Homo sapiens: one gene and its partners. The protein of the gene in region 1 purifies or fractionates together with the protein of each later gene. This does not show direct contact. Each region holds a gene or a part of one and is shown in the gene's direction. Other genes may lie near its edges.

What was found.
Region 2: the proteins of RAB6B (region 1) and GDI2 purify together in Homo sapiens (affinity purification with mass spectrometry; 3 studies listed by BioGRID and IntAct, with this or other methods). This does not show direct contact.
Region 3: the proteins of RAB6B (region 1) and OCRL purify together in Homo sapiens (affinity purification with mass spectrometry; 3 studies listed by BioGRID and IntAct, with this or other methods). This does not show direct contact.
Region 4: the proteins of RAB6B (region 1) and CHM purify together in Homo sapiens (co-immunoprecipitation; 3 studies listed by BioGRID and IntAct, with this or other methods). This does not show direct contact.

The regions. Positions count from the first base shown.
Region 1 is NC_000003.12:133,823,719-133,829,893, reverse strand, and holds the end of RAB6B (ras-related protein Rab-6B), read left to right. Parts: intron 1-1,041; coding exon 1,042-1,106; 3' UTR 1,107-5,659; downstream 5,660-6,175. UniProt on the Homo sapiens protein: The small GTPases Rab are key regulators of intracellular membrane trafficking, from the formation of transport vesicles to their fusion with membranes. Rabs cycle between active GTP-bound and inactive GDP-bound states.
Region 2 is NC_000010.11:5,810,413-5,817,903, reverse strand, and holds the start of GDI2 (rab GDP dissociation inhibitor beta), read left to right. Parts: upstream 1-4,469; 5' UTR 4,470-4,645; coding exon 4,646-4,690; intron 4,691-4,706; exon of another isoform or gene 4,707-5,589; intron 5,590-5,947; exon of another isoform or gene 5,948-7,491. UniProt on the Homo sapiens protein: GDP-dissociation inhibitor preventing the GDP to GTP exchange of most Rab proteins. By keeping these small GTPases in their inactive GDP-bound form regulates intracellular membrane trafficking.
Region 3 is NC_000023.11:129,557,243-129,564,269, forward strand, and holds part of OCRL (inositol polyphosphate 5-phosphatase OCRL), read left to right. Parts: intron 1-82; coding exon 83-193; intron 194-618; coding exon 619-708; intron 709-1,390; coding exon 1,391-1,511; intron 1,512-1,597; coding exon 1,598-1,759; intron 1,760-3,307; coding exon 3,308-3,409; intron 3,410-3,936; coding exon 3,937-4,051; intron 4,052-5,141; coding exon 5,142-5,258; intron 5,259-5,356; coding exon 5,357-5,544; intron 5,545-7,027. UniProt on the Homo sapiens protein: Catalyzes the hydrolysis of the 5-position phosphate of phosphatidylinositol 4,5-bisphosphate (PtdIns(4,5)P2) and phosphatidylinositol-3,4,5-bisphosphate (PtdIns(3,4,5)P3), with the greatest catalytic activity towards PtdIns(4,5)P2.
Region 4 is NC_000023.11:85,862,533-85,869,559, reverse strand, and holds part of CHM (rab proteins geranylgeranyltransferase component A 1), read left to right. Parts: intron 1-4,738; coding exon 4,739-4,930; 3' UTR 4,931-7,027. UniProt on the Homo sapiens protein: Substrate-binding subunit of the Rab geranylgeranyltransferase (GGTase) complex.

The DNA.
Region 1 (6,175 bases):
AAAGAAAAGTCAGAGATAAAGTCATACTCAAAATGTATGCCATGGCCGCATGGTTGTTAGAGGTGGCCAAAAAGTTGGCTCTGAGCATCCTCACAGCCAAGGCAAGGAAAGAGAATGTGAACTTCAGGAGAAGCATGGCTTTTCATAGTACTTAAAACAAAAGAACCTCTCCTGTTGTCCTCAAATAGGAGCCACAAAAGCATCCTTAGGATGCCAGCAAGAAGTTCCAAAACAGTGTTTCTTATACCACCACACCCCACACACCCCTGTCTTAAGGCAATCCCTGTCCAGGAAGAGCAATTCTGTGAGGTATCAAAGGGCCTGATCCTCAGCTATAATTAGGTCTGGTTTGATGCAAGGCTAAAATCTCACAGTGTTGGTTTTGAGCCCGATGAGGAAGGCAGAGGGCCAGCCTGGCTGTGCATTTGGAACCAGTCCCTGTGGTGGTTCTGATAAGTGCTTCTTTAGCCCACAGCCCCCGGGGGCACCAGTGGAAAGGGCTGGCGAGGGGGCTGTGCTTAGGCCCCATGGATGTGGCTTCTTACAGTAACCATCCTCAGGATCTAAGTGATGTGTTCTGACTAAAGCTTGAAGGGTTTGCTCCTGCTGCCAATTAGGCAAGGCCCACATACCCCTGTGCTTTGAGATGTGAACCCAGCAGGCTCTTCATCTCCATTGCACTTTGAGTGGGGCTGACAGGTAACTGGGCTGAGGCCAGGGCTGGGAGCTGGCATTTGAGCACTGGTCGAGGGAAGGCTTCTGGGAAAGGGACTCCCTGGCCTTGGTATAGATGGTGATCCCACGGCCCAGGCAAGACAGGCTTTGCTTGGGTGGACAGGCGCTGGGGGAAGTGGACGGGTGAAGGGAAGAGGAGGCAAGGTGGAGTTGGTATTGCATCCTTCCTAGCCCAGCCAAACCAAGAGCCAAGTCCCTAGGTGTTTGCAGAGAAACAGAGCAGTAGCCAAAGGGTACAGTGCACAGGGCTAAGTGGGGTGGCAGCTTGTCCAGGAGAGTCATCTTCCTTAGCCCGTCCCCCTGCAGTGATCGACATCAAGCTGGACAAACCCCAGGAGCCCCCGGCCAGCGAGGGCGGCTGCTCCTGCTAATGCAGAGCCGACCTGTGGCTTCCCATGACACTCCTTGCTTGTTGTGTTGCTTCCTATTGGCTAGCTTCCTAAGGGGGGAGGGAACCGAGTTATCAAGATGGGAGGATTTTTCTTTTCTCTCTGTCTTTAGGAGTAGGGTGGGATGGGGAGGGAGGCTGGGCATCAGGGATCACATCACTCTTAACGGCTGTTACTTAAACAACTATTTTTTGGTTTGGTTGTAATATATTGTACTTTATTAAGATTGCCAAAAACTGTTAAAATTTAAAAAAAATTTAAATCATGTGTATACAATTTTTTGCCAGATAAAAATGTAGTCATTTTTATTTGAAAGATGTGCTTTTTGTTTTTGTATATTTGTAAACTTATAGAGAACCTTTTCCACACACCTCCTCCTTCCTGTTCTCTTTGAACCATTCATCACCTCTGCCTTCCTCCTATCCCCAGCCCAATAAATTAAAACAATTAACTGAGCAAATTAATTAGGCTTCAGTCTGGGGCCATCTGGCCCCACTCTCTAGGCCCTACTCCAGTTAAATCAAACATTGGTTGAACACATCAGCCTCTGAAAAGGTAGCTCTGACTCTTGTCTTTCCATGGCCAGAGTGGGTCGTCAACCTCGTGTGGAGCTGAGACCAAGGTCTGTGGGCTCTAGGCAGCCCGGCAGCAGCCCCCAGAGGAACTGCTCCCACCTCTCCTTCTCTTTCCCTGAAAAGCCTTGAAGGGGGTTGAGGGTACAGGCAACCTTGTGTTCTCTGTGCCCTCAGGGACTGGCAGAGCAAGAGGCCATCAGAAGGACGAGGTGCTGTTGGCAATTGCAGCTGCGTGGTGCGTGGTTTATAGACTGGGGTGCCATGTGTACTTCTGAAAATATTTTAACCAGCCCACCCAGCAGTCAGTACACATGCCTGGGCCAAGTCTAAGAAACTCAGTGTGTGATGTTGGGCAGTGTGCCATCCTGAAGCCTTCCTCCTGGATGTCAGGGAAGCTGGACCACCTGGAGTTGATCCTCTGTGATGGGGAGGCGGGGGGGGGGGGGGGTGTTGTCTGCAGAACCACCACCTTGAAAGATCCATGTTCTTAGAGCCTCAGCTGCTAATATTGTTGAGTGCTTTCTGGAAAAGCTGATTTGTTGCTATGTTTTCACCCCAGTGGCATGGCGCAGTTGAAGTCTTTGTGGACATATCTTTGTGGCTACTGTGGCTGCGCTGTGGTCACCTGAGGATGTGGTTCAGGTGGGGTCTCCAGAAGGCTGCTTGCCCCCAGAGAGCCATCTCTTCCATTTTTGATTCATTCCTGAGAATGGCTTAGTCCTGAGAATCTGCAAAGTCTCTGAAGAGAACTCTCTCTTCCCACTAAGTGATATAACCTACTTGGCCAGCATTCCAAATAGACTCAGACTCACTGCCCTGAGCCTGCACAGAGCCAGGTGCAATGGGCAGTGAGTCTGGCCAAAATGTAAACCCCACCCTCCCTGCTGTCATTGGCTCTCCCTCCAGGCTGCTGCTGGGCATGTCATAGATGGGATGAATGACCATCTGGGGTATGGTGGGCTGAACTCCACAAGGTCGTTGGAATGAATTTTGAAACTTCTCAGAAATTAATCTGAAATGGCAGGCAGTAAGTGCAGCAGAATCTGGCAGGACTGATATTTGTGCAGTGGGCCTGCCACACACCCTCTGCCTAGGAGGCTGTATGCCAGAGCTCATCTCTAGCAAGGAATTTATCTTCAGGTGAAGAAGAGAGGAAGCAGGATCCCACTGAGCACCTCTTGCAGAAGGCAAGGACCAATGTTTGAACGTGTTTCAGATGTCATGTGTTTAGTTTTTATATGTGTGTACATAATTATATATAGAGATAGACTTGTGTATACACCTTCCACAAACACATCCTCACGGAGATACATGTGCTCAATGTATATTCTTGTTTCTCCTGCTCTCAAGTTGGAACTTGCATTGTGATAAGTTTTGGAAATTCAAAAGTACTGCAACGTGTTGAAATAAGAAATACTTAATATTGTCAAATAACTTGTGATTGTCTTGCCATCAATAAAATAATGCATAGTTGTGTTAAACTACAGGCAAACATAGCCCACGGGAATATCTCCACCATTTCTCTATGTACTTTATATGCACGGGTGTGCATGCCTGTGTGGGCCAGTGTCCCCCCACCATGGGCACACCCCCAAGTGGTGCTTGTTGGAAGAGTGCTTACTTACCTCGAGAGAATTTACAGGAGTCCACATGACAGTGTCCTGCCTGGTTGGCAGCGGGGGCCATCACCTGTGGCCTCTGAGACCGCCCCATTTACAGGAATCTGCACTGGGTCTCAGTGAATGAACGTATGGTAGATTTTTATTTTCTTGGCACTAAAGATTAGCTTTTTTAAAAAAACATCCCATAAAACAGTAGAAACTCAGTTCCCTTCTCAGGGGCACACACATCCAAGGCACCGTGGACTGTGTTTCCATCCTGGCCTAGAGGAGCAGTAAAAGATAGCATTTGGTTTGACATGGCCTTAGTGAGTCCTGCCTTTCCTAGCATGCACACAACATCCTCTCTTTGAGTTTGGGTTCTCCCCAGCCCCTTGGCCTCTGAGGCTGAGGGTGGCTTCCTCCCATCCTCCCATCTCAGTGGTTCCATGGCGCTCCCTTCGGCACGTGCGGTTTCCGCCCCTCCCTTCCTGGGGTGTGGAAAGGCAGCCAGACCTCTTTTTCAGAAGTTGTTGGTTCCCTGATTTTTGTCTTGAGCAGGCACCATCCCTGTCCCCTTGCTTGCAGGTAGAATTGGCACAGAGTTAAGGTTCCATAATAAACTGTTAGGTGCTCTTGAAGAAGATGTCATGGCATTGCCTCAGCACCCCAGCAAGAGCATTGCATCTTTGCTGAATCCAGATGGGTTAGCAGAGGGCAAATTGGAGGATTCCTTTGAGGAAATGTTCTCAATTGAGCAATTCAGTCCCTCTCCCCAAAGACTAGACGTGACCTGGCAGATTAGCAGGATCCTCTTGGCCTTCTTTTTTGGGGATGGTGGGAGTGAAGGGGGTGAATCTTAAAAGCTTATCAACAAAGCTCCTGTTCTGCAGGCATCAGGAAAGTTGAGTGTAAGATGGAAAAAGCAAACAGCCTATTTACAAGTGGAAACACATTGGTTCTGATCACTCCTAACTTGCTGGGTGATCATACATACATCAACATGAAGGTGTGACATCAGAATCATGAGCACCATGGCTGCAGTTGTGTGATCCAAGGCTAGTTGGCTTGGTAGCTGTTGGCAGCAGTTTCCCTTGGTCAGAGGCCTCCTTGCTATCTATCGCTGCTCTCTTCTTGTCATCCTTAAACATTCAGTCATGTTCCCAGGTCTGAGGGGAGCAATGGCCAGACCAGTTTCAGTATCTCTGGCAACAGAAACAAGGATTGAAATGGTGGTAGTTAAGAGTGCAGACACATCTGGGGTGCAACGTCTGCATCATCCTGGTGGCTAGCCAGTGCGGGGAGGCCCTGCCCTGGGATACCAGTTGTGACAATAAAGGGATGGCCCTCCTGGCTTCAGCATCCTGCAGGTAGAGCAGCCTCATTCCTTCACAAGATGGAAGGCAGGTGAGGATGTCAGGATGAGATGGGACCAGGTAGCCGAGGACAGTGAGGCATGTCTGAGCCACTTGAGGGGCAGCTGAACAGAAGGATGTCTGTGTGCATCAACCGAGCAGATTGTGCGCACACTCGTTTCCGAACTGCCTCTCCCCAAAGAATGTGAGGCATTGTCACCTTGTTACAGCTATGTGAAGCAGAGCTGTCACAACTTTTCCTGTCTACAGGCAGGAAAACCAGGATGGAGAAGGGCAACTTGCTTATTAAGATCACCCAGCAAGTTAGGAGTGATCAGAACCAGTGAAGTTTCCATTTTTCATCCATTGCTGCCCTGTGTGTGAACAAATGTGACTCCATATTTATTACACAGCAAGGACTGCTGTGTGTGGGTGTGTTCCTCAGACCATCTCTACTCTTTTTGGTTAGGACACTAGGTTCTTCCCAGCATATGAGTGAGAATATTGGTGGTATTTTGGGCTCCTCTACTGCACAAGGGCCAGTCCCCAAGTCTACTCTGATTGATTGTCATGGGCACCCACACAGATCAGGACACCCTTTGAATTTTTGTTTGACATGAACTATTTAGGTGTTCCAAAACCTTGGGATCTCAATGTGCAAACTCCTTGGACTCCAGACCCCTGTCTGGTTGGCACTCCCAGCAGTGTGTGGTTTCATCAGGAAATCCTTGCAGCAGGGGTTTAGATGGTTCCTTCAGGAGGTGGGAAGCCTCCATAGCATTGAAGGCCAGCCTGCATCTCGCGGTGTGTGTCCACTTCTCCCCTCACTTTCCCCTCACCCATCCCTTTAAAGTGATTGGCTGTGAGGAGCACAGAGGGTGGCAATTCCATCTGTTATGGGCTCAGAAGACATAGCCGCCATGTTGATTTCACATTAAACTGTGTAAAATGTGGAAAAGACTCAGCATGTTGGTCAAACAATAAACTGTCCTAATTCTCAAAACAAAGCTTCTTGTCTGTGTTTAAGTGGTGCAGTCATAAATGGGGGGGTTCAAAAACAGTTCCTGAAGTGTGTGCTCCACAGAGTCCCTTTTGTCATGCCTGGGTGGTATGTCCACTACCTAAAGCCCTTTGCTGCTTTGCTTCTTCCTCCTACTGGTGGAGTTGGGCTGTCCACCAACTCCGAAGGGGTAAAGATGGGACACACTCATGAGAGTAAATCCACACGCATTCCCCTAATCTCCATTCTGCTGAAAGGCTGATGGGAAGGGAGCCTCCAGGCAGAACTGAGTCAGGGGTACGATATATTCCTTCATCCCCACTCTGCTTGCCATGGCTAGGGGATTAGGAAGGGGGGAGAGGGTACAGGGACTGGATCTCTCATGCTTCTGGTGATTTTCAGAAAGCCATTTAAAGGCAAGAACTTAAGGTGAACTATAATGACCTTTGACAACATCTAGCTGCCATATTCCATCCCCAGCCCCACACCACACCAGTTAGGAACATCCCTGAGTGGCCCCTCC
Region 2 (7,491 bases), on another chromosome or scaffold:
TCTGGCCTGGGCAACAGAGTGAGACCCTGTCTTAAAAAAGAAAAAAGGAAACTAGTACCAATATCATCATATTCAGTCCTTGTTGATCTAGGGCTCAACTTCCAAGTCCCCTATTCATTTGTCAAATATTTACTCATCCTCTACTAGTTGCTCAGCCCTTTACTGGCTGTCCAGGCTTCATATCCCTGCCCCTATGGAGTTTACATCCAATTTGAAAAGCAAAGAACAAGTGAAGAAAATAATTACCCCCTCTAATAAGAGCAGTGAGAAACAAGCAGGGTACTGATAGAGAATGATGGTTGAGGGGAAAGCTGAGACCTAAGGAAGTGGAAAAAGTTAGCTGTATGAAGAAGTGCAGGGGGAAGTGAGGGGTGGTAGCCATGGAACCAAGAGTACAAAGGCCCTCGGGTGGTTGAAAGCTTGACCAGATTCTAGGAACCGAAACACATGCATGTTTGGGGTTTAATGATCAAGGAGCCAAGGAGCACTAAAAAATAGAGTTGGAGAGACATACAGAGGCTAGATTAAGGTATTAGGTCATATTTAAGGATTTACAATGTATCCCTTTTTTTTTTTTTTTTTTTTTTGAGATGGAGTCTTGCTCTGTCTCCCGGGCTGGAGTGCAGTGGCGCCATCTTGGCTCACTGCAACCTCTGCCTCCCAGGTTCCAGCAATTCTCCTGCCTCAGCCTCCTGAGTAGCTGGAATTACAGATGTGCACCACCACACCAGGCTAATTTTTGTATTTTTAGTAGAGACGGGGTTTCACCATGTTGGTCAGGCTGGTCTCGAACTCCTGACCTCAGGTGATCTGCCTCAGCCTCCCAAAGCACTGGGATTACAGGCGTTAGCCACCATGCCTGGCTAGGATCTACAATGTATTCTAAGTACAAAAGATATACAGAAGCCTGAACATGATCTGATGCGTGTTTTTAGAAGATAATGGACAGAACAGATAGGAGAAGAGGAAAAAGAGAGGGAAAAAAGCCTGTTGAGAAACTGCCACAGTGATGCAGGAGAGAAAAAGATGGTCTGGGCTGAGGTTCGCTCTCATTTTCTTTCCTTAGATTAAATCTCTCCTTTTCAAAGGGCAGATGGATGCTTAGTAAAAACAGATCAGCAAACAATTATTCCCATGTACCCAAGTATAAATAAGACTCCATGGATTCCTGCTTTGCATAAAGGTTTGAAATATTTTATTTTATTTTTTTTTTGAGACGGAGTCTGGCTCTGTCACTCAGGCTGGAGTGTAGTGGCGCGATCTTGGCTGACTGCAACCTCAGCCTCTCGGGTTCCACTGATTCTCCTGCCTGTCTCCCGAGTAGCTGGGACTACAGGCATGTGCCACCACACCTGGCTGATTTCAAGATTTGAAATATTTTAAAGATTGATGGTGTCCTGGTTTGATCTTGGGTTTTGGCACCAAAAAATAAAATTAAAAATAAAGATTGATGTTTACCACTCATCTTCACCAACCAACCTACTTCCCCTAAACCTAAGGTTTCACTGTAGCAGGAACTACCATCTGTGGCATGAGATCAACTCAACCAATTAGTGGCTTTCAAGCCTCTTCACCTTAAGCAGTATTTGTCATCTACAAGTTCCCTTGCAACTGGAATGGGTGGGGTGGAAGATCCAAGAAAAGCACAGAATTTTCTTTTTTTGAGACAGGGTTTTGCTCTGTTGCCCAGGCTAGAGTGCAGTGGCATCATCATGGCTTGACCTTCCTGGGCTCAAGTGATCCTCCCAGCTCAGCCTCCTGAGTAGCCAGGACTGCAGGCTCATGCCACCATGCCCAGCTGATTTTTTTTTTGAGACTGAGTCTCGCTTTGTCACCCAAGCTGGAGTGCAGTGGCACGATCTTGGCTCACTGCAACCTCTGCCTCCTGGGTTCAAGCAATTCTCTGCCTCAGACTCCTGAGTAGCTGGGATTACAGACGCCTGACACCACGCCCAACTAATTTTTGTAGTTTTCGTAGAGACGGGGTTTCACCATCTTGGGACGGGTTGGTCTTGAACTCCTGACCTCGTGATTCACCCGCCTTGGCCTCCCAAAGTGCTGGGATTACAAGCGTGAGCCACTGCACCCAGCCTGCCCAGTTTTTTTTTTTTTTTTTTTGAGACGGAGTCTCACTCTGTTGCCCAGGCGGGAGTGGAGTGGCGCGATCTCGGCTCACTTCAGCCTCCGTCTCCCGGGTTCAAGCGATTGCTCTGCCTCAGCTTCCCGGGTAGCTGGGACTACAGGCACGTGCCACCATGCCCGGCTAATTTTTGTATTTTTAGTAGAGATGGGGTTTCACCATATTGGCCAGGCTGGTCTCAAACTCCAAACTCCTGACCTTGTGATCCGCCTACCTCAGCCTCCCAAAGTGCTGGGATTACAGGCATCAATCACCGTGCCCGGCCTCCAGCTAATTTTTTTTATAGGGACAGTGTCTCTGTTACCTAGGCTCTACAGCACAGGCTGGTCCCAAGTGATTCTCCCATCTCCCACTCCTGGCCCCAAGTGATCCTCCCATCTCAGCCTCCCAAAGTGTTAGGATTACAGGTGTGAAGCACTGTGCCTGGCTCAGGTACAACATTTTAGATGCACTCAGTCCGTTAAGGCTTAGTCCAGGTTTGATTGTTATTGTCCTTCTGTTGGGCCATAGGGCCTGTACTGTGAACTAAAATGAACTTCAGTGTTAAGTAAGGAAGGGATCCTTATTAGCCTTAAATTCAATTCCCTTATCTCAGTGTCTTCAAGTTTCTCACAACTCTTGAGTATCGATAAAATAGTCTTCACCTAAAACATGGTTAACATAATTCAGTTGACATGCTTAAATTTCTCTTCAAGAGCCAGAGGCTGATGGCAATTGTGAAAAAAGCTCTTTATTGTTATTGCTAATAAAAAAAAAAGGGCCAATAGTCAGGTGTGGTGGCCTGTACCTCTTGTCCCTGCTACTGGGGAGACTGAGGTGGGAGGATGGCTTGAGCCCAGGAGATCAAGGCTGCAGTGAGGCATGATTACACCGCTGCACTCCAGCCTGGACGACAGGGTGAGATTGTCTCAGAAAAATAAAGAAAAAGGGTTATTTCATATTGGTTCAAAAATATAGGTAGTATGACCCCCTGATGACTTGAAGACAGAGCAACAGAAGGACCTTCTTTAGTCATCATTAGCTTAGCCAAAAGAAAAGTCAGTTACACTCACTGTTGCATAATCAGTTGTATGGTCAACTGTGCACTAATTCATTTGGTCACAAATATATACAATCAAATTAAGGTTGAATGTAAATTTAAACTTTACTTTTGCTTTCTTCTCCCCTCCCCCCCAGAAAGATCCATGGTCCAATATAACATATCTTCTTCAAGTATTTATGGGGTAAGAAACATTTTAAAAAGTTGTTACATTCTTTCCTCTATCTTAATGATTTAAATATGAGCAAGTTCGGTCTATCAAGGCAGGCTCTGAATAGCTACTATCGAGAAGTATTTGAGGAGTTCTTGAATGCCAAATCTTCATTGTCTGCTGACTCTGCAGATTTATCACGTGCTGAAAGCACAGGTTTTCCAACTGTCAACGTCTTTACGAAATTCACCTGCTTAGGCTTTCGTGGGGTCGGCCTCTTGGAGCTGAGAACACAGCTTCTGCTTACACCTGTGTCCTCAATGAAGCCAGAGATTCCTAAGAGAATTCTAGAAAAAGAGGAGCGGGGTAGAAGGCAAGCAAGGAACAGTTTCTAAGCTTAGGGCCTAAACCTTTGCATACAAGGATCAGCTACCACGTTTACAGCGGCTTTAAGTTACAGCCCTCGGTAGGTGCAGATCGGCTTCCCAATGAAACCTGGCTTTCACTTTCATCTCTGTTAAGGGTTACCTTTTCAAAAGAAGCCGCTTTTCCTCCTACCAATTTCCTAAAGCGCCCACCGGCAACGCACTAAACAAGGAGGGCACAGAGCGGGAAAAAGGACACGTGTGATTTCCGAACTCTTCCCGGCGGGCTCCGGGCCCCGGCAAGCCCAGCCCCGCGGGAGGAACCAAGGCCGCCACCCCCGAGAGGCAGCCCGGCCCGCGCTCCTCGCCCACGTGGCCGCCGCACGCGCCCGCTCAAAGTCCAAGGGCGGCGATCCGGCTCTGGGACCTTGGACCGAGCGAGCTCCCGCCCCGACGGCGGGAGTCAGAACGGTGGTGGCCAGCAGTCCCCGCCCGCGGCTCCGTGCACCTCCACCCCGGCCCGCGCGCCGCCTCCCGAACCACCGTGGCAGAGGCCGCAAGGGGAACCGGAAGCCAAAATGGCGACGCCCCGCCCTTTTCCTCTCGCGAGAGGCGGGGAAGGAAAAAAAGTTGTGCGAGCGACGGGGACGTAACCAATTAGAGTGCCGGGAGCGCCTGATTGGCGGCCCTCCCGGCGCCTGCAGGCCCCGCCCCGGCTGCGGAGGCTCAGTCACAGCCCTCCCCTCCTCGCTCCCTCCCCTCCTCTCCCCGCCCAGTTCTTCTCTTCCCGTCTGAGGTGGCGGTCGGTCTCGCCTTGTCGCCAGCTCCATTTTCCTCTCTTTCTCTTCCCCTTTCCTTCGCGCCCAAGAGCGCCTCCCAGCCTCGTAGGGTGGTCACGGAGCCCCTGCGCCTTTTCCTTGCTCGGGTCCTGCGTCCGCGCCTGCCCCGCCATGAATGAGGAGTACGACGTGATCGTGCTGGGCACCGGCCTGACGGTGGGCGCCAGGGCTGAGGGGCCGGGGCTGAGCAGCCGGGGCGGGCGCACCCCCGGCTCCTGCACGGCCCGCGGGTCGCAGCTCCTCGGGGGTCTCGTTCTGCCGTCAGCCGTAGTTTTCGGGACGGGAGTCGTGGCTAGGGGCGCGGGCGGGTTCAGGGGCGCCCCGCGTCCCGGGGCGAGCGGGCGGCTCCCAGTGTGAGGGGCAGGCGGGGAAATGGAGATGCGGGCCGTGAGGCTCGGGGCGGGGTGACGGCCGAGCCCGGCCTCTGCGCTTGCCCCCAGCGGAAGCGGAGGGGAGGGGAGAAGGCCGCCCGGGCCAAGGGTCCCGCTCCCCGGTTTGGGCCGGTGACCTCGCCCGGTTGGAAACCAGCACCCGAGGCGGAGGGGACGGTGCAGGCCTCGCGGTTGCATTTCCTATTCCGCCTCGGCCGCTGCCCCGGGTCAGTCTGGCTGCCAAAGCCGAGTACGGGGTTTCCTGACAAGTCTTGGATAATCACTGCTTCGGAACTGCTAGGGCTTGATTAACTTATATTTTTGGCGAAAACGTGGAAATTAGTCTTTTAATCCTTTCTCCCCCCTGCTAATGAGAAGTATTATTGAATCCTTTTAGCCACCCTCCCTTCTCACTTACTGAGCATCTGTAGAATTGGAATTGAGTTTTTTCAAAACTTGTCCGTCAAATGCTTTCGCACCTGACCTTCGCCGCCTTTTCCTTTTGTTTGGTGGGTTCTCTGCCTCCTTTGTCTCTTCTGGACTGTTTTCCCCTAAGAATTGGGTTGGTGATGGATTGCTAAAAGCCAAGTTCTCTGTACTCCGAAGCTTTCTTCAGGGAGTTGGAAGATAATAACATGAAGAATGCATTGTAATATATGAATGCAAGGTGTACCTAATATCATGGTATATTGATTTTCCTGGTTATCTGTTTCTAAGGGAACTTTAGGTAATCTGTAGATAACGCAGGCAGGTTCTGTAGTTTGTACTTTTTCTGTTCTTTTTTTTTTTTTTTTAAATGTTCATCTTGCAAAAGAATTCACTTTGGAGAAAACCATTTTAACTATCAATTTTTGGGGAAATTTGAAATTCTAACTTTGGGCTGCTTGATCATAATTAAGATGAATACTGATGTAAATCTTGTGTATCCTATGTACTCTGACTTCAAATTCCTGAGTCATTTAATGTAGACTTCCACTTCAAATTTTTTGAAATTTATTATAATCTCTCAGGGTCAAACCAATTTTTTTTTTTTTTTTTACAGGTAACATCCCAAAATAACACTTTTAGATGTCTCTAGGCAAGAGAAAACCTTCGAACTTTTATTTGGCTAATTTTTTAGGAAAGGTTTGTGAAGAATTAGAATCGTGTTTTTCTGGTCTGTCATTTTTCTGTTTATAGTTATATGCAATTATTAGAGAATATTCATTCTGAATACTTCGTTATGTTTGACCAATCCAGGAATAATCCTGTGTCTGTCTTTGAAAAGCTGGAAGACTGTTGGATGCCTAAATGAATAGGCCCTACCCACTGCAGGTTTTGTGCTTTTTTTTTTTTTTTTTTAAGTGCCTAATTGGGATTCCAAGCTGAGCTTAGTAGTTTGTGGTGGATTTTGCCTGTTGGAATGGGTAGTGTTGCTGCCAGCGTGTTTTAAGAGCCGGTTAGTTCCACCGTTTTTCTATGGTTGTTGCTGGTCTTTCAGATTTGCTCACAATTGAGGTCAGTTAAGCATGCACGAGTGAGTGCAAATCCACCATCATGCAGGCTTCCACAAGCCTCGTTCACATCACTTTGTATCAAAGATGGTGAAAGTGTTTTTATATAACAAGTTAAGATAATGAGCTTTGTTTAAATTTTCATTCGGATTGTGAACTCTTTGATGAATGGTAGATGCATACTTAACTAGAAATCAGACCTGTTTCTGCTGTCATTTTGTAGCTGTGATAACTTTAATCTCTGTGAGCCTTCCTAAGTTTTCTGAGATGTTCTTTGATAATTATATCAATTCAGGACAATCACATTATTACCATCATTGATAGGAGTAGTGATGACAGGATGATTTTGATAATGAGAAATCATATATCCTTATTTTTAGTGTTACCAGGAATTAGATGATTAAAAATTAGAAGAAGAGAAAACCAAAGTTAGCACTCAGAATTAACTTTTGAATGTCTGGAGTTAATTAATTTTCTTAAAATTTACTTTAGTGCCTGAGACTTAAGAACCTAAAAAAAGGCAAGTACTTTCAGTGTTAGGAACTTGTTACTTTTAAAGAAGTGTAAGGAAGTGCTGGAGTTGCTGTGTTGCTTAGTGCTGCCATTGTTTGTATGAGTTGTTAAGTCTAAGCTCATAATCACAAATATTGATAGTTATCTTAATCAAGAAGATACAAAACGATTTGGTATAAAGGAGTAAAATCTTCATTCTGTGTGTAAAAGAAATGGAATATTCCACACAATTGAATTTTCTGAGGAACTAAAGGTTATCTCTAAAGAGCACAGCTTTTGGATAATGCCTTTCTAAATGCTGTCACAACTTCTTTAACAAACTAAGAAACATAATTTACTTGATAACCAAGTTTTCACATAGTGAAGATTAACTATTGTGTTATGCTGTAACATGGTGAAGCCATGAAGACCCCGCCAGCTTTGTAGGAACTTTTGCCCCCTTTACTCTCAGGCTGCTATGCTTTTTGAGCTCTTCAGTTTACTCTTCATATTTTTTCCCTCTATCTTACTTTACTGTTAGGCTGGCAACATTTACTTTTCTCTGCTTTCAGCATGTGTAGGCAGCCTCTCACCACATAAT
Region 3 (7,027 bases), on another chromosome or scaffold:
TTAACCTGATAAGTTGAGAATATGATCCCAGTAAAACATTTTATCCCATAGCAGTATATGTATGGATTTCAATTCTTTTTAGGTGGCTGCAAAATTCGGGTTCAGGGGGACTGGATCAGAGAGCGCCGCTTTGAAATCCCTGATGAGGAACACTGTTTGAAGTTCCTCTCAGCTGTCCTTGCTGCTCAGAAAGGTAACTAAAGACTCAGCGATTTTCTTTCTTCTATTTCAACGGGAGTGGAATTCTGACATGCTGATACAGAGGAAAGTGGCCATTGGCAAAATACCTCACCCTTTAAGCCCTGATAGCTGATTTTTTTTTCTTCAGGAGTGAACACAGGGATAGGTTAGGGAAAAAATCTGCCCAGCTTTAAGGACACTAGGCAAGTTTTCAGAATATTCAGTGTCATGGCAAGCACAGCTTACCATAGACTATAATTCTCCTTCTGCCCCTAGATGACCCCAGAGCTGCCCTCATTTCCTTAGTTTCTTCCACTGTATCCAAAAATGGTGCTGGCCCCTGCATATAAGGAATGTTGAAAGAATGGCTTTTGGCTATAGTAAATTCTACTCAGTGAAAGACTTCCCAGTTTCTGACCATGAACCTTATCTCTCTAGCTCAGTCACAGCTTCTTGTTCCAGAGCAAAAGGACTCATCTAGCTGGTACCAGAAATTAGACACTAAGGACAAACCTTCTGTTTTTTCAGGTACTAAAAAGTTCCTGGTTTCCTTGTTGCTATGGTCATTGCAGAGTCAGTAGATTTTGTCAGGCCAAATATGGTGATGTAGATTAAAGCTGATGTCAGACACATTCTCCTGCAGAGTAGTTTTATCAAGTCCAGGCCCACTGACCAGTGTTCACTCCTTATCCTTCCTGTAGCATGGTAGCTGTTCAGGAGCCAGCTTAGCAGGGTGGTAGAAAGTACAAGCTCGAGAGCCAGACAGCCTGGATTTGAATCCCAAGTCAAGAACTTACTAGTTGTACAACCTTCATCAAGTTACTCAACAACTCTGAACTTCCCTTTTCCTTTCTGTAATATGGGAAGATTTTTAATAGTACTTACTTCTTGGAGTTTTTGTGATGATTAAGTGAGATCATGATATAGTCCCTTACTCTCAACCAGGCATTGTGCTCAGTCTTCAATAAATGTTAGCTATTACTAGTCTGTTCCAAGTTCTTATAAACTTCTATTGTTCTAGTTAGTATATCAGTGCTTCAGGGATAGGTATGCTTCTTCGAACTCCAATCCAAGTAATTTCTACCCTTATGATAGTTTTCTGTTTAGTAATACCACTGATCAAATTGTGATCAAATCAAAGCCCTGTTACCCTGGATATGTTGGATGTTAGATTTTTTCCCCGTTTGACTTTGGGGTCTGTGTCTTTCAGGGCTTCTTGGATTTGAAGACAATTTTTCTTCTATGAATTTGGACAAGAAAATAAATTCACAAAATCAGCCTACTGGGATTCATCGGGAACCCCCACCTCCACCCTTTTCAGTGAATAAAATGTAAGTCCCATGTGAAAACATATTTGCCTTGTAGGAGAATTATAGTTTAAACAATTTTACTTTTGAATCTCTCATTTATTTGCTAGGCTTCCACGTGAAAAAGAAGCTTCTAACAAGGAGCAGCCCAAAGTGACCAACACCATGCGGAAGCTCTTTGTACCAAATACCCAATCTGGGCAGCGGGAGGGTCTCATCAAACATATCCTGGCAAAGCGAGAGAAAGAATATGTCAACATTCAGACTTTCAGGTTAGTGTCTCTTTTGCTTCCTGAGTCTAAAAAGTTAGTATATATAACAGACAGTGGCCTGTTGATATTTAAGACATTAGCCTAATTAAGAATCAAAATATGATAAAAAGGAATGGTTGCCTGTTTCAAGCTCCTGTCTCTATGCTGGCCAATAACATGCATATCAGAAATAATGCAGATGCTACAGTTTCCCTTGGATTTTCTTTTTTTGTGTGTGTGGGTCAGGGTCTCTCTTTGTCACCCAGGCTGGAGAGCAGATAGATCATGGCTTACTGTAGCCTCAACCTCTCAGTCGTAAGCAATCCTCCCACGCCAGCCCTGCAAGTAGGTGGAACTACAGGTGCACACCACCACATCCAGCTAATATTTGTGTTTTTTATAGAGACTGGGTTTCACCAGGTTGCCCAGGCTGGTCTCAAATTCCTGAGCTCAGGCAATCCACCCGCCTTGGCCTCACAAAGTGTTAGGATTACAGGCTTGAGCCACCGTGCTTGGCCTTCCCTTGGATTTTCTAACTACTAATAATGCCATGTCTACTAATGTCTCTACTGAGTCCTAGAGAACCAAATCAAGGTCACATGTACTAGAGAATTTTCCCCTAGCACATTCCATAAGCAAGCGTGTTTATATATCTGGCCTGTTAAGTTTTTTTTTTTCAGCCAATATTAGAAAATTAAAGTCCATCATTACCACTAGCTCTTAACTTACTTACTTTGGTAAATAAAGAAAGTTTCACCCAGTCCTCTTGATTGGGAGGTCTATCTTGGGTTCTTTTATCTGTATTATTTTTTATTTCATCTTTTTTCTGGACTTGTGTGTGTATGCTGCATGTGAGGTACCATGTGGCATGTATCGCCAATGCATGAAGCAACACCACATTTCTTTGTTATTCATGAGCAGAATGTACCCTTCTAGTCCAAGATTCTAGTCCCATCTGCTATCCTGTCATACCTCATTTATTCTAATTCAGTCATAACTATATCCCTATGCTAAAACTTGCAGTTCCTCATATCCCCCACTATGCTTATATTTGTGTGTAAACAGTTAAGACAGTCATGAGTTTTCCCTTCTGCTTTCCCCCTTAATACTATGTCTGCCTCATCAGAATTTCCTACACAGATGTCCTTGTAATCCTTCAGGAAGTGAGTTCCTGGAGTCAACTATAGCCCCTTATAGAACATTTATCCATATTTGACTAGCTTACAGCATGAAGATACCTCTTTCCCATCCATAAGCTCTCCTATCAAGTATGAGTTTGGATGGAGCTTAATTGAAAGGAAATGTGGTATAGCAATTACCTTTGCATTTTTTAAAAATAAAGACTTGGTTTCCTTCTGTAGTTTTACTTAATGTAAAATTTAGAGAAAATAAGCCCACTGCCTTTGTGTTCTAGATGCAAAAGATCTTTCTTACATATGTGGCAAAACATTTTGAGGAATTATGTTAGCATATTGTGAACATACCTTTGTATGGAAGCGAAAAGAAAGAACTTCTGTTGGTTTATACTTGATCTTTGTTTTCAAATTATCTTTTCGTATTATGTATTAGATTTTTTGTTGGAACTTGGAATGTGAATGGCCAGTCTCCAGATAGCGGGTTAGAACCTTGGCTGAACTGTGATCCCAATCCTCCTGATATCTACTGCATTGGGTAAAGAACACTTCTGGAATTTCCTTTTGGCTATATGTTTGGTGTTCATTTACATGATGTTTTGCCTTTTTTAAAAAAGACTGTTGGTAAAACCTACTGTAGACTATACACGAGAGTTAACTTGCGGGTCAAATTTGTGAGAACAGAAATGAACAGATACCTAAAATGGTGTAAGGAAGCATCTAATTTTCTTGAAACCCGTAGGAATCTATATATTCTGCATAGAAACTAAGACTTGGGGTCAGTTCTAACAGTGACAGTTCCTAGGATATAAGAGCAAAGCTCTGCTGTTATCCTCTGTGGGAGGTATTTTGATTTATTTTTTGCATAGCTTATGAATGTACTTGTGGGAATTCTTTAGAAAAGAAAGCTACTTGTTCTTACTGATAACCTGGGTGAACAGAGCAGTTCTATAAAATTTATCTCTCTCCCATCTTTTTTTCATCTAATGTTTCAACATATGGGACAGGAGGTAGCCAGAGATAATTATGGGATATGTATAGATCTCATATCCCTTTTTTCCTCAGATTCCAAGAACTGGACTTGAGCACAGAAGCCTTCTTCTACTTTGAATCTGTGAAGGAACAAGAATGGTCCATGGCTGTAGAGAGAGGTTTGCATTCCAAAGCCAAGTATAAGAAAGTAAGCCGCATTTAATTATCTTTTTAAGTGTATGACTAAATAGGGCTCACCGGGAGTTATTCCATTATCTACAACTTGTTCCAAAAGAATAGTTTAATTGAATTCTTCTCTGTGTGTAATACTGGGATAGGGCAGATTGATCATTCATCCTTATTTCCTAGAAAAAAAAATCCCTAAGCTTTCTGATACTATATTTTCATTGCTTAGATAGCTTTTAGGGGAAAAAAGAATTTTATTATGCTTATATCAATACTTAGTTTGAAATAATTACATATAAGATTTAGATTACTCACTGACATGGTCAGAATTGAATGCTTTACAGAAAAGCAATATGAAACGTGGGCGCATGGTGCATGTGTTGCAATCAGAGCAAGAATAGAAGTGGTGTGGAATTTGAACGAGTTCTAAACTTGGTTTTAAGTTAAGAGGAGAGTTGACTTTAGCAAGATGGGCCAATTTGTTTGTCTTTAGAAGGTATGTGGTAAAGGCATTTAGCTACCAGAAGAGTTAATTACAGGGCTATCATACTAAGGTCTCTAAAAGAAGTAATGTGAGTAATTTTTCTCTACATCTTCTAACAGTTTATATAGGTAATAAAACTCCTGGGGATGTTATTCCTCTCATATAGGTCCCTGACTAATGTATATCTCAGACATATTTCTAGCTGTAGTTCACAAGTTAAAAATAAGTAAAAAAGATTGCTGTTTGGTTGATTTCAATTTCTTAGAAAATTAGACATCAGAAACTAGGAAGGAAAGGTGGAAGGAACAAGCTGGGATAGTGGCTTTATTATTTGAACTTTTAATGCTGCTTACTCCTGGTAGGCTAAGAAGTGATTAAAAGAATAGATCTAGAGCTGAAAGTACTCATTGTCCCTCCCAGCTTTTAACTCTTATTGGTCAGTGCCAGATTAGAGCCTCCCCAGAGAATATTAGTTTCCACTTGACGGGGTCCACTGAGAAATTAGAGGATATGAAGTCAGATTTGGGCACTAGTATATCATCTTGATGGAAAATTAGTCGTGGGACATTAGAAATGTGGCAAAGATTGGTATTAACATTAACCTTTTGTAACTCCCCGGAACTCATAGGTTCAACTGGTGCGCCTTGTTGGGATGATGCTTCTTATATTTGCCAGAAAGGATCAGTGTCGATACATTCGTGATATTGCTACAGAAACAGTTGGAACTGGAATCATGGGGAAAATGGTGAGTTACTTTGGAAATGAGCTTGATTATTATTCATGTTCATGTAAAGTTCAGTTGCTTGTTCTGTGTACTAATTGAATAATTACTCTTGCTAACAGGGAAACAAAGGTGGGGTAGCTGTGAGATTTGTATTTCACAACACCACCTTTTGCATTGTCAATTCCCATCTGGCTGCACACGTGGAGGACTTTGAGAGAAGGAATCAAGATTATAAGGACATTTGTGCGAGAATGAGTTTTGTGGTCCCAAATCAGACCCTCCCGCAGTTGAACATCATGAAACATGAGTAAGTGGTTAACTCACCTGTAGCCTTTGAGTAGTGGCTACAGGAGTTTGGATAGTGTAGAGATTAAATGTGAGATACTGTAGAGCTGTGAAGAGTGAAAGATTACCAGTGAGGGATTGGGGTCACAAAGGAGAGGGTTTTTGAGTAATAACAGAATCATTGAGGCAGAGAAATTAGACTTGATATCAGAGGAAAAGATAGTTCTATTAGTGGGGCACCTAGAATAATGCTGGAGGGTCTGTAGTTGGAGTCAGTTTTTATTGTTTTTATGATAAAATAGAAATATTCATTGCAAATGTAATAAAAGATAAAATTAGAAGTTAAATTTCCTCATTTCTTATTCTCTACCTAGCCAGTCCCTCTCTCCAAAGGAAACCATTCTTAACAGTTGGGTGTGTAGCCTTTTAGATCTGTACTGTCCAATATGACAACCAGTAGCCATATATGGCTGTTAGGTACCTGAAAGTGACTGGTCCAAATTAAGATATGCTGTATGCATAAGCTATATATTGGATTTTAAAGACTTAGGAAGAAGATGTACGATATCTTGATTTCTAAAATATTGATCACATGTTGAAATAATTTGGATATATTGAGTAAAATGAAATTTATTGATACTCACTTGTTTTTTTTCTTTTTAAATGCAGCTACTAGAAAACTTAAAATTATATTGTGAGGTGCATTATAATTCTATTAAATAGCACTATTCTAGCCTTTTGTCTATTCATATACAAACACACACATAGGTACTTGGTGTATAAGACTGTATTATTCTATTTATTGTGGATTCCTTTCCAAGCCAGTATATATAGATCTACATTATTCTTTTTAATGGCTGTGCTTATTAAAAACAGGGGCAGCAGAGAGAGGTCAGTGAAGAATGGGATTTAATAAGCATAGAAGCAGAGATGTGTTGAGGAGTAGATGTGGTGGTAGAAAATGATTAGTTTTAAAGAAATTAATATACCTAAAACCATGAAAACCCTAGAAGAAAACCTAGGCATTACCATTCAGGACATAGGCATGGGCAAGGACTTCATGTCTAAAACACCAAAAGCAATGGCAACAAAAGCCAAAATTGACAAATGGGATCTAATTCAACTAAAGAGCTTCTGCACAGCAAAAGAAACTACCATCAGAGTGAACAGGCAACCTACAAAATGGGAGAAAATTTTCGCAACCTACTCATCTGACAAAGGGCTAATATCCAGAATCTACAATGAACTCAAACAAATTTACAAGAAAAAAACAACCCCATCAAAAAGTGGGCAAAGGACATGAACAGACACTTCTCAAAAGAAGACATTTATGCAGCCAAAAAACACATGAAAAAATGCTCACCATCACTGGCCATCAGAGAAACGCAAATCAAAACCACAATGAGATACCATCTCACACCAGTTAGAATGGCAATCATTAAAAAGTCAGGAGACAACAGGTGCTGGAGAGGATGTGGAGAAATAGGAACACTTTTACACTGTTG
Region 4 (7,027 bases), on another chromosome or scaffold:
TTCATAAGCAGGTAGAACACAAGAAAGAGTGGTGTGACAACCTGCAACTGGTGCTAATCTTAGGAGGCAGGTGGTGCATGACAAGATATATGGAAGTATGTGGTGTGGGATCCAGCCACAGAGACTGGAGTTTAGGGTAAAAGCTATTCTATGGGGAGGAGGCAAAAGGGAGACAAGGTGTCAAACACAGAGGAACTAGCATAGAAGAAGTAAAAGAATTAGTAGTAATAATAATTATTATATTTATACTTAATATTTGTATTAAATGTTACTGACATTCTATTTTATGCCAAGGCACTAAGGATCCAGAGTTGACTAAAAGTATTTGTCATCCTGGAGGAATCACTGTCAGGTAAAGGAGAAAAGCATGTAAACAAATGACAGTGTAGTGTGGCGTATGTACTAATATATCCAAAGTCTAGAAATAACAGAAAGGAGAAATGAGCCCAATCTAGGAGTCAGAGAACCTTACGGAGAGGGGTATAACAGAAGAGTAGCAATTCTCCATCTAAATCAAAGACAGTAGAATTGAAACATTCTGGATGTGAAGAATAACATTGGTACCAGTCCAGGATGTAAAAGATAAATATCATGGTGTATTGTTTCATACAAATAAACAGGTATTAGTAAATCAAGAAGTCTGAGAGATGGAGGCTAGATGAAATGGTATATGATAAGATCAGAGAAGGTAGGCCTGAAGGGTTTTATTTTCTATAGTAGGAATCTTGGATTTTATCCTATTGGTGATGGGGAGTCATTGAAGAATTTTAAGCCAAAAATGGAATAAACAGAATTTTATTTTCCATTGACCCATCTGAGGATGGCATGGAGATGGATTATATGGGGGAACTCTAGAGGCAAGGAGACCAGTCCAATTCTGAGGCTATTGTAGTTGTCTAGTTGAAAGATGGTGCATGTCTGGGCTATGTCAGTGGGGAAGGAACAGATGAAGTTAAGAGATAGAAGATAAAATTGATAGAATTTGATGATTGTTTGCATGCCAAAGATAAAAGGGAGGGAGAACTTTTACAGATAGTAAAAACAGAGATGTAAGACAAAAAGACCATTAGGGGAACGGAAGTATGAGGTAATGGCTTTGTCTGATCTAGGTCCTGCTTCTACAGGGGTTGCGTGTCTCTAGCAAAGGAGTATGGTGAGTCTCCGGGATGGAGAGCAAAGACAGGCATCTGTAATGTTTAATTTCCAAATAGCCATAATAAAAAATGCAGTTAGCTATAGTTACCATGCTGTACATTAGATCCCCAGAACTTATAGCTGAAAGTTCATACCCTTAAACCAACAGCTCTACACTCCCCAGCCCCTGGCAACCACCCTCAACTTTTTTAGATTCTACATATAAGTGAGATCATGTGATATTTGTCTTTCTGTGCTTGGCTTATTTCACTTAGCATAATGTCCTCCAGGTTCATTTATCTTGTCATAAATGACAGGATTCTTCAATTCAAATTTGACAAGAGAGCAGATTTTAAGTATTCTTACTACAAACACACACACACACACACACACACACACACACACAGTGGTAACTATTAGTGGTGATGGACGTGTTAACTTAATTGTGGTAATCATTACACAGTGTATATCAAGTGACCTTGTACACCTTAAATATATATACTTTTTGTCAATTAAGTATTTAAAAACTTAAATTGTCTATAGTAATTGGCATGTCCAAGAACATACCCTTGAAGGTTTTTTATTCTGTTACCCTGTCATACTAATAAGTTCAGCTTAAATCTTGACATTTTTACTTATGTTATTATTAGTAATAATGAAAATAGCTACCATATATGTCGGCTTAATCTCTGATATTTTATAGATAAGGAAGCCAAAGCTCGGAAATTGAGAAAGCATTCCCCAAATCACATAACTGCTAAATCGTAGAGCCAGTATTTTTACTGAGGCTATCTTTTCAAAACCCATGAGCTTAAACAAGTGCTATAGTCCTTAAAGTCCAGGGAATGGAAATTCTATCAAAAAGCAAATAGTTGAACAAACAGTGAAGAGTTTTCTTCATTTGAACAGTGACTTGTTAAAATTACTATATGCTAAATTAGACTATACCAGTATCACATGTGGGCTTGTATTAGTCTGTCCTCACACTGCTATAAAGATACCACCTGAGACTGTAATTTATAAACAAAAGAGGTTTAATTGACTGACAGTTCCTCATAGCTGGGGAGGCCTAAGGAAATGTAAAATCAGGGTGGAAGGCAAAGGGGAAGCAAGGCATGTCTTACATGGCGGCAGGAGAGCAAAGAAAGCAAAGAGGGAACTGCCAAACACTTTTAAACCATCAGATCTTGTGAGAAGTCACTATCACGAGGACAGCATGGGGAAAAGTGCCCCCATAATCCATTCATCTCCCACCAGTCCCTCCCTAATACTTGTGGATTACAATTGCAAATGAGATTTGGGTAGGGACATAGAGCCAAACCATATCATTCTGCCCCGACCCTTCCCAAATCTCATGTCCTTTTCACATTTCAAAACCAATCATCCCTTCCCAACAGCCCTCCAAAGTCTTAAAACTCATTCCAGCATTAACTCAAAAGTCCACGTCCAAAGTCTCATCTGAGACAAGTCAAGTCCCTTCTGCCTATGAACCTGTAAAATCAAAAGCAAGTTAGTTACTTCCAAGATACGATGGGGTATAGGCATTGGGTAAATGTCCCCATTCCAAATGGGAGAAATTGGACAAAACAAAGGGGCCATAGGCCCCATGCAAGTCCAAAACCCAGCCGGGCAGTCATTAAATCTTAAAGCTCCAAAATCTCCTTTGACTCCATGTCTCACATCCAGGCCATGCTGATACAAGGGCTAGGCTCCCACAGCCTTGGGCAGTTCCAACCCTGTGGCTCTGCAGGGGATAGGCACTGTGCCTGCTTTCATGGGCTGGCATTGAGTGCCTGTGACTTTTCCAGGTGCATGGTGCAGGCTGTCAGTGGAGCTACCATTCTGGGGTCTAGAGGACAGTGGCCCTCTTCTTACAGCTCCACTAAACAGTTCCCTAGTGGTGACTCTTTGTGGGGGCTCCAAGCCCACATTTCCCTTCAGCACTGCCCTAGCAGAGGTTCTCCATGAGGGCTCTACCCCTGCAGCAGACTTCTGCCTGGCCATCTAGGCGTTTCCTAACATCCTCTGAAATCTATGCAGAAGCTCCCAAACCTCACCTCTTGTCTTTTGTGCACCCTCAGGCCCAACATCACGTGGAAGCTGGCAACGCTCGGGGCTTGCACCCTCTGAAGCAACAGCCCAAGCTGTACCTTTATTCCTTTTAGCCATGGCTGGAGCTGGAGCAGCTGGGATGTAGGGTACCATGTTCCAGGGCTGCACAGAGCAGTGGGGCCCACCCAGCCCACTAAACCATTTTTCCTCCTAGGGAAGATCTCTGACATGCCCTGGAGACATTTTCCCCATTGTCTTGTCTATTGACATTTGGCTCATCATTGCTCATGCAAATTGCTATAGCCAGCTTGAATTCCTCCCCAGAAAATGGTTTTTTCTTTTCTCCCACATGGTCAGACTGCAAATTTTCCAAACCTTTATGCTCTGCTTCCCTTTTAAACATAAGTTCCAATGTGAAGGCATCTCTTTGTGAACACACATGACTGAGTGCTTTCAGAATCAGCTGGGTCACCTCTTGAATGCTTTGCTGCTTAGAAATTTTTTCTGCCACATACCCTAAATCATCTTTCTCAAGTTCAAAGTTTCACAGATCTCTAGGGCAGGGAGAAAATGCTACTAGTCTCTTTGCTAAAGCATAGCAAGAGTCACCTTTGCTCCAGTTCCCAATAAGTTCCTCATCTCCATCTGAGGCCACCTCAGCCTGGACATCATTGTTCATATCACTATCAGCATTTTGGCCAAAACCATTCAACAAGTCTCTAGAAAGTTCCAAATTTTCCCACATTTACCTCTCTTCTTCTGAGCCCTCCAAACTGTTCTAACCTCTGCCTGTTACCCAATTCCATAGTCACTTCCACATTTTCAGGTTATCTTTTAGCAGTACCCCACTCCTGGTACCAATTCTCAATGCTAGTGCCTCTTACACTGCCATAAAGATACTACCTGAGACTAGGTAATTTGTAAACAAAAAAGGTTTAACTCACAAGGCCACATGGCTGGGGAGGCCTCAGGAAAGTTACAATCATAGCAGAGGGTGAAGGGGAAGCAAGGCACATCTCACATGGTGGCAGGAGAAAGAGAAAAGGGGGAACTGCTAAATACTTTTAAACCATCAGATATTCTGAGAACTCACTATCACAAGAACAACATGGGAACAGCCGCCCCCATAATCTAGTCACCCCCTAACACGTGGGGATAACAATTTGAGATGAGATTTGGGTGAGGACTCAGAACCAAACCATATCAAGGCTCTATAAGAAATCATATAAACAATATTAAGGAAATTGTATTTCTATTGATATATAGAATGAATGTATTTCAGTTCTCAACAATCTGAACACTTGATAATGAACCTGATGAGGTACTGCCATCCTTGAAGAGTGGACCTCAATACATGTATAGAATTAAAGGGAGAAGTCATAGAATTCTGAAAACAGACTTACGGAAGTTCATGTATTCTGATTAAGTACTGTAGCCTGTTTAAGCAAATTTTTAAGGATAAAACACTTATTTTTTTTTAGTTAATGCCAGAAATGCACACACATTTTAAACCGATTTCCAAAAACGATTTTATCTTTTCTTCCTTGGCCAGGCTGAAACACTTTTCCAGGAAATCTGCCCCAATGAAGATTTCTGTCCCCCTCCACCAAATCCTGAAGACATTATCCTTGATGGAGACAGTTTACAGCCAGAGGCTTCAGAATCCAGTGCCATACCAGAGGCTAACTCGGAGACTTTCAAGGAAAGCACAAACCTTGGAAACCTAGAGGAGTCCTCTGAATAATGGATATACACCAAACTGGATACCCAACTTTGGAAATTCTGACTGGTCTCAGAGTCTACTTGATAGAAGGACTGTTTGAGAAATGTTAGAAAGCAGCAGCAATTATAAGGCAAAATAGGTAATAGAAATCCAAAAGGGGATTTTCCTTATAGAGGACATTCCAAGAACACACAACACTTATAAAGCACATTGACTTGCTCATTTTAAATACCAAACTTGTGTGACTAGCAGATGAAAATTATAAATCAATTGATTCTCAGGAATGTAACTGTGGATATGAAAGTGATCCTATGCATTGTTAATAATTCCATGGTCTTAGGACAATTTTGCTTACCACTTTGGATCTTTGTTTGAAAGCCACATTTTCAGAACCAGCTCATGTATTTTCTTTGGTTATTTGAATTTTATTTTCTTTATGGACAAGAGCATCATAACATAATGATAAAAACATATAGAAAAACTAAAGTATCATGATCTAGATAGAAGCCTGTATTTGGAATACAGGTTTGTTTTGCTTTCTATGTTGAGAAGCATTGAAAATGCTAATATAAAGGTGTTTAGACATTTTTACGAATAAGTCAGTAGTGTTTTTTAGTATCAGTAGTGATATTTGTTTGTAAATTATTTACATATTGGGAAAGGTCAATAATGAAGAAATGAAAGAATGGAAGGAAAGGTGTGGATAGGCTCATTGGTATTTGAATATTCTGTCTGTCAAGTAACTAGAGTATTAGGCTAATTGTCTACAGACCTAATTTAATCCTGGCTGTCCTACTGATGATATTTGGTAAATTGTTTAACTTCTGAGCCTACGTTTCTCCATATATAAAGTGGAAATAGTATTACTATGCCTACTATATGAGAATGGTTATGAAGACAATGCAATGCCATGTTTAGAATCGGTTTGCCAGAAGAAAATTGTTTTAGAATTTTCCCATTGACTTGATGAATCTCAAAAGTCTCACGCAGGAAATAATTGCTTGCTGTCAGTCAACTTCCAAACAAAATAGATCACAGTGTTTTTATTGCATTAAGCTTTTTAAATGAAAATTTCTTTTTTAAAGTAGTATTTTATAGTCTTACAGACCAGTAAAAATAGTAACAAGTAGAATTGTGGTTTTGAAATATTACTAAGGAAAACACTCTATAAATTGTTTTATTCCTTTTCTGGTAGGTAAACCTGCAACCACCAAGGACTCCAAATTGTGTATGACAGTTGGTAAGCCCTAATATACACTACATAAAAACGTTAGGGCTGCCTGTAATCCCAGCACTTTGGGAAGCTGAGGTGGGTAGATCACTTGAGGTCAGGAGTTCGAGACCAGCCTGGCCAACATGGCGAAACCCTGTCTCTACTAAAAATACAAAATTTTAGCTGGGTGTTATGGTGGGCACCTGTAATCCCAGCTACTTTGAAGATGAGGTAGCAGACTCACTTGAACCAGGGAGGCGGAGGTTGCAGTGAGCCAAGATTTTGCCACTGCACTCCAGCCTGGGTGACAGAGCAAGACTCTGTCTCACAAAAAAAAAAAAAGGGGGCTGTACATAGGCAGCAAACTAAGCTGCAGTGATGTTGCCTATATTTAAATTTTCTCAAATGGCCAAGCTCTGATGGTCTACTTTATTTGAGCAATAGTTGAGACTTATAATTGCCTATAAATAAACAAACAAATGAACTATTTGTTTTTTTTTCTCACAACATCTGGCCTATATTGTCTGTCAGGAAGCCATGGCTCCAATGTAAAGTACATAGTTCTTACATACTTCAACTGCAGCTGGTCCCTGACCTCACCAGGTTTCAGAGATGTTCTTAAAGGAAGCCAGCTGTGGCAGGTCACAGATTCATGGGAAATGGAAAGAACCAAGGAATATAGCTCTTGCCTCACCTTTCTACCCACTGCAGATATAGTTCAAGCCAGAGTAATGGAAGAACTTAACTTACTAGCCTCTCAGGCTGCTCCTATCCCTACCTCCCAGTGTACAGCCCCTCCCCATCTCTTTAGTCCCCTTTCCCTCACTTCCCCTTTTATAATGTCACACAAATCAGGGACAGTAGGATCACATTATAACCTACTTTGTCATAGGGATTCGATTTTT